2 separate regions of the Homo sapiens genome follow, and region 1 is linked to region 2. The links come from fine-mapping of genetic effects on gene expression. A gene starts in region 2. The other region holds a variant in brackets. All regions are shown on one strand. Distances are from middle to middle. Region 1 overlaps HARS2 (histidyl-tRNA synthetase 2, mitochondrial). Region 2 holds the start of WDR55 (WD repeat domain 55).

Region 1 (4,391 bases), 32 kb after region 2:
GTAAAAAGTTAGCTGGCTGTGGTGGCAGGTGCCTGTAATCCCAGCTACTAGGGAGGCTGAGGCAGGAGAATCACTTGAACCCAGGAGGCAGAGGTTGCAGTGAGCCGAGATTGCGCCATTGCACTCCAGCCTGGGTGACAAGAGCAAAACTCTGTCTCAAAAAAAAAATTTTTTTTGTGGAGATGGGTGTCTTTGTTGCCCAGGCTGGTTGTAAACTCATCGTTTCAAGTGATCCTCCCATCTTGGCCTCCTAAAGTGCTGGGGTTACGGGTGTGAGCCACTGCATCTGGCCTACAGTCTGCATTTTAAACAAGCATCGTGGGTAATTAAGATGCATGTAGTCCTTTCCCTGCACTTTCAGAACCAGTAGCTTAGAAGTTGTTAGGCAAATCCAAGTTCTGAAGCTTGACTATTTTGAGATGGTTCGGAATCGATCTGAATGGGCAGAAAGACCTGAAGTTAGTTCTTGGGTCACTTCTATCTCTACTTGCCTTGCTTTCTGCTGAACTTTTAGTTTTGCTAGGTGAGATTCCTTCATTTGACACTATTCAATATATATTGAATTCCAAGCACTGCTAGGCCTTGGGGATAGTGGAAAAAAGGGAAGGTCCTTGTTCTTACCCTAGTGGATGAGATCCAGGCCCAGTCCTCCCTAATGTCTGTATACTGGGCCTAATCTTTGGATGCAGTATCCCTCTTCCTTAACCCATTTATGTGAGGTTCCCTTTGCTCGTTATCTGGCCATGAATAAGGTGAAGAAGATGAAACGTTATCATGTTGGAAAGGTGTGGCGGCGAGAGAGCCCAACCATAGTCCAAGGCCGTTATAGGGAGTTCTGCCAGTGTGTAAGTGACCTGATGGGAGCAGCACAGTTTGATAGTTCTAGGGGCCACAACCTTGAAACTGGCTGGATAATGGATGTTTTTTCCCATCTTTTTCTTTGCTGTAGGATTTTGACATTGCTGGTCAGTTTGACCCTATGATCCCCGATGCAGAGTGTTTGAAGATCATGTGTGAAATCCTAAGTGGATTGCAGTTGGGAGACTTTCTCATTAAGGTGAGGCCAGGGCTGAGAACTGTGGGAGAAGTCTGGATTTGGCCTAATACTGTTTATGCAAGTCCCAAACTTGGGTGACTCCAACCCTTAAGCCTGCAACTGTAGGACTTTCCTAGTAAAGCTGTTGTATTTCCTATATGTCTGTACTCTTCCTGTGAAATTTCCATCCTTTTTGTGTGTCAGGAAAGTAGGTACTGCCATTGTTTTGAGTGGAAGGGCATTGACAAGCACTTGGGTCACTGACATTGAGTTCTCAGGTAAATGACCGGCGGATTGTGGATGGGATGTTTGCTGTCTGTGGTGTTCCTGAAAGCAAGTTCCGTGCCATCTGCTCCTCCATAGATAAACTAGACAAGGTAACAAAGAAGACATACTTCAGTAGACCCTATCTAGCTTCTGCCCTGCCCTCAAATCCATACCACTAGTGAAAAATAAGGAGATTGTGGCTGGAAGTGGGCTATTTTGGGGTGGAAGGTAAGGAGGCATACTCTGAAGGAAGATCTGAGTCATGCTATACAGTGGGGATTGTGACTGGATTTCTTAAGCTGTCTCTGACTTTGCTGAGTATACAGTTAGCTACTTGTGATGTATATACTGAATGGAAGTTGAGTTGTCCTTTTTCAGTTTGAGAAAGAAAGATCTTGGGGCTGGGCTAATGTTTGGGTGTTTATGCAGATGGCTTGGAAAGATGTGAGACATGAGATGGTGGTGAAGAAAGGCCTGGCTCCTGAGGTGGCTGATCGAATTGGGGACTATGTCCAGTGTCATGGTAAGAACCAGGGTTTTCAGAGCTGTGATAGAACCAGGCTGAAGGTGACATGTGCTCAAATTCTACCTCTGAAACAACTCTTTTCTGTAGATATGCTAAGCTCCAGGGCCTGTCCTGAATTTAATTTCTCTTTTACTTATTGTAACGACTTTGTGTCTTCAGATGGCAAAGCTAGAGGCAAAGGAGGAGGGTCTTGTCATGTGAGACTGGGAT[C/CT]TTTTTTTTTTTTTTTTTTTTTTAAAGAAAATGAGGAAGACTAGCTAGAGCACATTAGGGATAATTTTGAATGAAACACATGTGAGTGAACAGCAGAGACTTTATTTCTCTCCAGGTGGGGTATCCCTAGTAGAGCAAATGTTTCAGGATCCCAGACTATCCCAGAACAAGCAGGCCCTGGAGGGCCTGGGAGACCTAAAGCTGCTATTTGAATACCTGACTTTATTTGGAATTGCTGATAAGGTAAGCTGAATTGCAAATGGACCTCCTGCTGAGCTCTAGGGCTCTCAGGGTCCCGAGTCTAGTTTGGGACTGACTGTAATCTTGTCCCCACAGATCTCCTTTGACCTCAGCCTGGCTCGGGGCCTAGACTACTATACAGGAGTGATCTATGAAGCAGTGCTGCTGCAGACCCCAACTCAGGCTGGGGAGGAGCCCCTGAATGTGGGCAGTGTGGCTGCTGGTGGGCGCTATGATGGGCTGGTGGGCATGTTTGACCCCAAGGGCCACAAGGTGCCATGTGTGGGACTCAGCATTGGGGTTGAGCGAATCTTCTACATTGTGGAGCAGAGGATGAAGGTAGGTCCTAGATAGGTGTGAGGTGGGGCTGGAGACCTAAAAACCCTCCTGTTTCTGGAGGTGTAGTTGGAGTGGTTTTCTGATGATTCTTTTTGTCTTGATTTTTGGAATTGCTGGTGGAAAGGAGGTTTTTATTAGTTTTACTTTCTTCTCTCTTATTAGACCAAAGGTGAGAAGGTGCGGACTACAGAGACTCAAGTGTTTGTGGCCACACCACAGAAGAACTTTCTCCAAGAACGGTTGAAGCTTATTGCAGAGCTTTGGGATTCTGGAATCAAGGTATGGTGGAGCTGATATCTGAGCCATCTGGGTATGTGTGGAATTTAGGACCCAGGGCTATATCTATCTTATGTCTGGGGTGGAACTCAAAACCTTTTTAGTCTGCTAGCTACTACTGGCTACTAGATTGGCTTTTTAGGGTAGGCGGACTAGCCACTTATCTCTGGCTTTCTTGGATATCCATGTTCCTGAGGTTTGTTGCTGTGTTCACTTCTAAGTCCCTTACTCTGTCTTGATCCTTTTCAGGCAGAGATGCTATACAAGAACAACCCCAAACTATTAACCCAGCTGCACTATTGTGAGAGCACAGGCATTCCACTGGTGGTCATTATTGGTGAGCAAGAACTGAAAGAAGGGGTCATCAAGATCCGTTCAGTGGCCAGCAGAGAGGAGGTGAGTGGCGGCAGCAGAAATAGAAGGGACGAAGTATTTCTGCCTTTCCCAGATTCTGTAAGAAATATGCATCTTCTGGCTGAGAAATTATCTTCATGGTTAATAGTGGTAGAGATGAACAAACACTCACTCAAGATGACCATTGCTGCCTGTGAGTATTGACTGGGTGGCCAGAAGAAAGACAAATGAAATCCGAATGGGTATTTTGAGACTAATCAACATAATAGACATAGATCAGGTGTTTGAATCCCTTTCATCTTGAGGGTATACATTCTTCAGGTCAACCCACACTACTCCTTTCTGGTTGTATAAGTAATGGGAGAAGATGCAGAGTAAAACAAATCTGGAAAAACAGTGGCTAAGGAGTTAGTATCACTTTCTAGTTTATCACATGAGGATTCTCTTATGTTTCAGGTGGCCATTAAACGGGAAAATTTTGTGGCTGAAATTCAGAAGCGACTGTCTGAGTCTTGATCCTTGCCTGATTCCCATCTGCTGCTCTTTGTAGAAAAGGTTTCCTCTAGAACTGAATTCCTCTGGAATTGAGTGATGGACTTCACAACAACTAGCCAGGAAGGGTGACAAGTACCTTCTGCCTCCTCCATTCTTCCTGGGTGCAGAACTGTAGAAGACCCTGAGGACTCCTGGGCTAGTGTGAGCAGCTATTCTGCATGGGTGCAGATGGCTGGATGTGAAAGAGACATGCTCTAGCTGCAGAGGCAAATTTGAAGTGCCACGGAACGTTGTCAAGAGGTAGTGAGATTGTTGCTGTGAGCAAGGCTCTGGGAGAGTCACCTCAGGCTCAGGATTCTGAACCATTGAGATCAGAAACCAGATACTTAGCCTTCTACTGTAGCTACGGAACCAGATTCTGGTGAATTTGTCCACAATCAGCCATTGGCCTGTCTGGGGAGTTTTTGGAAGACAGCAAAGAGGGGCAATGGCTGCTTTCAGCTTTGAGGACAGATGCTATCCTAAGGGCATGGCAGTACCCATGTTGATTTGACATCTCTCTAGCCCATCCATTGCTTACAGTAGAAGAGTGGGGCTGTATGCTTGATAATCTTGAACATTGAACTTAATAGATGACTTGACAAGGTA
Region 2 (4,391 bases):
AATTCCACTGGTTGTGTAAAATCACATGCAGAAAGTCATCAGTCCTTTCCTGAGCTGTGGTTCTAGATTCCTAGACAGTAAGGATGCTCTCTAGCCAGTGTGCCCAGTAGAGAAGAGAATAATGATCCTCACTGATGGGCAAGAGGTGGATAGAGGAATGTAAGTATGATTGGTCTCAAATGTCAGACTCATTCCGGCCCATCTTCAGGCCTAGTCCCTGGGGAAAGATTTCCTGGGGATTGCTGTCAGCCTGATGGGCTGCTAATCTGATCTCCAGGCTATGAAGGACTGGGCTCTGGATGAAGGCATCTAATGAAAATCACTTATGGGTGGGAACCAAAACCTTTTATGAGTTTATGTACTATGAGCTTTATTAATGTTGAGTACAAATCACTGTCTCCTTGGCTAAAGGTGTAACCTTAGGGAAGTGCTTTGGGTTTAGAGCTGATATAGTGTGGCCCTGCAGGTACAGGAATTCCTATCCTAGACCAGAAGGGTTTGGTGCCCTTCATCACCCTGAAACATTTGCCAAGGCCCAGAATAGGTCTGTTGACCTTTGAATCACACCATTCCCTTCCCTTTTCTTCCCTTCTGCTCATTACCAGCACTTTGGCCTGGTGCTCATCATTAGGTGTCACTACTGCTTCCTGGCTGGATGCCACGCTGCCACTGTCTACCCTGAGCCCAAGATTTGTGGCCTCACCAGATCCAAGAAAGCTAGAAAGTCACCTTAGCCATTACCTTGTCTTTGATTATATTCACCTTGGTAGGACAGGTTTTTGTGAGGAAGCCAGTATTGTGCATGGCATGTAAGAGGCTGAAATTGGGCCTTGCTGCAATAGCACCTAGAATGGCTAATTTCAGACAAATGACACCATGGTTCTATGGATGTAGGTAGGCAGTCCCAATTATTAAAAATGGTCACAGAGACATGGCACAGGTGAAGACATCTGGAGAGTCACTAAAAGCAAGACCTGGAGATTGTGGGTTTGAAATTCAGTTTCTGAGGCCAGGCTCGATGGCTCATGCCCACAGTCTCAGTGCTTTGGGAGGCCAAAGCAGGAGAGTCTCTTGAGGCCAGGAGTTCATGAGTCTATAGCTATGCAGGAGGATCGAACCGAAGAGTTCAAGGCTGTAGTGAGCTATGATCACACCACTGCATTCTGAGCCTGGGTGACAGAGCAAGACCTTGATTTAAAAAAAGAAATTCAGGGGCTGGGCGCCGTGGCTCACGCCTATAATCCTAGCACTTTGGGAGGCTGAGGTGGGAAGACACGTCAAGAGTTCAAGGCCAGCCTGGGCAACATACTGAGTCCTCGTTTCTACAAAATATACAAAAATTGGCCAGGTGCGGTGGCTCACGCCTGTAGTCCCAGCACTTTGGGAGGCCAAGGCGGGCGGATCACGAGGTCAGGAGTTTGAGACCAGCCTGGCCAACATGGTGAAACCCTGTTTCTACTAAAGATACAAAAAATTAGCTGGGCGTGGTGGCATGCGCCTCTAGTCCCATCTACTCGGTAGGCTGAGGCAGGAAAATCTCTTGAACCCGGGAGACGGAGGTTGCAGTGAGCCGAGATCGCACCATTGCACTCCAGCCAGGGCGAGACTCCGTCTCAATAAATAAATAAAAATTAGCCAGGCGTGGTGCCGCGTGCCTGTAGTTCCAGCTACTCGGAGGATCGCTTGAGCCGAGCGGTGATCGTGCCACTGCACTCCAGCCTGCGCGACAGCGCAAGACCCTGTCTCAAAACAAAGCAAAACAAAAAAGAAAAAAAAATTCTTGGTAACTGAGCACTGCTTGTCCAGCCCATTGAGTTTCTGTAGACAAATTGTAGGAACTGGCACAGCAAACTGGCCACAAAGACGTTAGGGGCGTGGACACCAGCTGCTTGAGCTGCCTGCTGTCCCAGACTCCCGTATGTCATCGCGCAGCGTGGGATTTTGCGGCTTCCTGACAGCCCAGGCTGTCGCTTGACTTGATCTTGGGTTTCACCAAGCCACGAAGGACTAGCGTCCCTCTCTCCTATCCCAAGGGCATTAAGCCTGTCTGGATGAAGTAGGAGAGGAAAGATTTACACGCAGTTCTCAACTTTACGTGACGTGACTAGGGAGGGAATTGACGGTCGCACCGTCTACCTAGCCCAAACGGGGTCACAGCAGGACAAGGAAGTAGCCGATCTCCCAGATGCGGTCTCTTCGCTCCGCTCCACCCGCACCAGCAGCGGCCCACCCACCTCTCCTGTAAGAGGAAGAACGTCCCGGAGACACTTCCGGCCCCGCCCCCCGAGGCGGAAGCGGAGTGCCAGGCTACTCCTCCCGCAGTGTGGGTGGTTCCGAGGCTGACTACCCTGCGGCGGCGCGGCTCGCAGTCCTTCTCAGCATGGACCGCACTTGTGAGGAGAGGCCCGCTGAGGATGGGAGCGACGAGGAGGACCCAGACTCCATGGAAGCCCCAACCCGGATCCGGGACACTCCGGAAGACATCGTGCTGGAAGCTCCGGCTAGTGGGCTGGCGTTCCATCCGGCCCGTGACCTACTGGCTGCAGGGGACGTGGACGGGGACGTGTTCGTGTGAGAGCGGGGCAGGGCCGGGGCGCCGGGTCTGGAAGCTTCCCGGGGGTGGACCTGGGAACAGGAGAGATGAGAGAAAGTTGCAGGGAGACAAATTTTGCAAGATTCTTTGGGTCCAATTTATTCAGTAACATTCGGCTCTTCTATCACACCAATCTGTTGAAAGAACTGGAATGTCGTGACAGAGCCCAGATACCGTAGTAGGCCAAAAAGCCCTTTAAGGCCTTGTTATTTCCCACCGATTATTATTTATTTACTTACCTATTTATTTTTGAGACGGAGTCTCGCTCTGTCGCCGAGGCTGGAGTGCAGTGGCGCGATCTGGGCTCACTGCAACCTCCCCCTTCCGGGTTCAAGCAGTTCTCTTCCTCAGCCTCCCGAGTAGCTGGGATTATAAGCGCCCGCCACCACGCCCGGCTAATTTTTTTTGTATTTGTAGTAGAGACGGGGTTTCACCATCTTGGCCAGGCTGGTCTTGAACTCCTGACCTCGTGATCCACCTGCCTTCCTCCCAGAGTGCTGGGATTACAGGCGTAAACCACCGTGCCCGGACTCCTACCGGATTATTATATTGTGCCCGAGACAGGCTCAGCAGGCCCCTTTAAGTGATTTTTCAAACCACAAATCTTGGCTCACGCCTGTAATACCCGCACTTTGGGAGGCCGAGGTGGGCGGGTCACCTGAGGTTGGAGCTCGAGACCAGCCTGTTCAACATGGTGAAACCCCGTCTCTACTAAAAATACAAAAATTAGCCCGGTGTGGTGGCGCGGGCCTGTAATCCCAGCTACACGGGAGGCTGAGGCAGAAGAATCACTTGGATTCGGGCGGTGGAGGTTGCAGTGAGCCAAGATCGTGCCACTGCACTCCAGCTTGGACAATAGAGTGAGACACTCCCTTGATTAAAACCCTTCAATGGTCTGCTTTTAGGATTTAGTACAAATTTCTCAATCCTGCCTTCAACGCCCTGACCATCTGTGCTCATTCATCCATACCTTTTAAAAATACGTCTTGGGCCGGGCGTGGTGGCTCATGCCTGTAATCCCAGCACTTTGGGAGACCAAGGTGGGGTATCACCTGAGGTCAGGAGTTGGAGACCAGCCTGGCCAACATGGTGAAATCCTGTCTCTACTAAAAATAGAAAAATTAGCTGGGTGTGGTGGCGGGCACCTGTAATCCCAGCTTCTCGGGAGGCTGAGGCAGGAGAATCGCTTGAACCTGGGAGGTGGAGGTGGCAGTGAGCCGAGATCGTGCCATTGCACTCCAGCCTGGGCAACAAGAGCAAAACTCCATCTCAAAAAAAAATCTCGAAACCTCAGCCCATTTGCATGTGCTATTCTGTCCGGAAAACTCCTTTCCCCTCACTTTTACCTACTATCTCTGAGTTTCCAGGATCTCTTCCCTCTTCCTCTCTCCCCAGACTAAAATTGGTTACCTGTTAGATGCTGCCATGGCACCAGGTGCCATGGTACCTTTCCCTTAATAATGAATGGTTGGTAACCATATGTCCATTTGTGTAATTATTTGAATGCTGTCTCCTTCACTAATGTTTTTCAAACGTCTTTGACCTTGCCTCACAGAGAAATACCTTTTACATTATATATGATGCTCTGTGATACAATTGCTGATTTTATTCTATTATTGTGTACATGTACACAAAATGCTGATCGTAGCTTACTAGTCCGTTATATGACTAGAATGTGAAAAAACACTGTTCTGGAGTGTAATCTGTCATCGGTTTTGTTCTCTATTTTATCTCCAACCTCTAGTCTAGGGTAGATGCTCAACACATGTTTGATTTTGAACAAAAGATACAGGTTAGA

The links. PIP is the estimated chance that this variant, and not a neighbour inherited with it, causes the effect.
Region 1: its variant is the best candidate, but not a certain one, in a credible set for the expression of WDR55 in whole blood (INTERVAL, PIP 0.53).

What each region holds. Positions count from the first base shown.
Region 1 is chr5:140,694,789-140,699,179 of GRCh38, forward strand. HARS2 (histidyl-tRNA synthetase 2, mitochondrial) reads left to right here. Exons shown (of 13, transcript NM_012208.4): 5 at 720-845; 6 at 950-1,057; 7 at 1,315-1,413; 8 at 1,733-1,826; 9 at 2,155-2,282; 10 at 2,376-2,618; 11 at 2,781-2,897; 12 at 3,144-3,290; 13 at 3,705-4,391. The coding sequence ends at 3,764. Among named protein-coding and RNA genes, the nearest start is that of ZMAT2, 3.5 kb to the right of the region's middle. The variant C/CT (reference allele first, on the strand shown) is at 2,040.
Region 2 is chr5:140,662,533-140,666,923 of GRCh38, forward strand. WDR55 (WD repeat domain 55) reads left to right here and starts at 2,372. Exons shown (of 7, transcript NM_017706.5): 1 at 2,372-2,571. The coding sequence starts at 2,381. It overlaps LOC124901088 (a long non-coding RNA gene), which reads right to left and starts at 2,905. Exons shown (of 2, transcript XR_007058968.1): 1 at 2,833-2,905; 2 at 1-2,625. RefSeq lists enhancers at 1,783-2,449, 1,867-2,026, 2,377-2,506.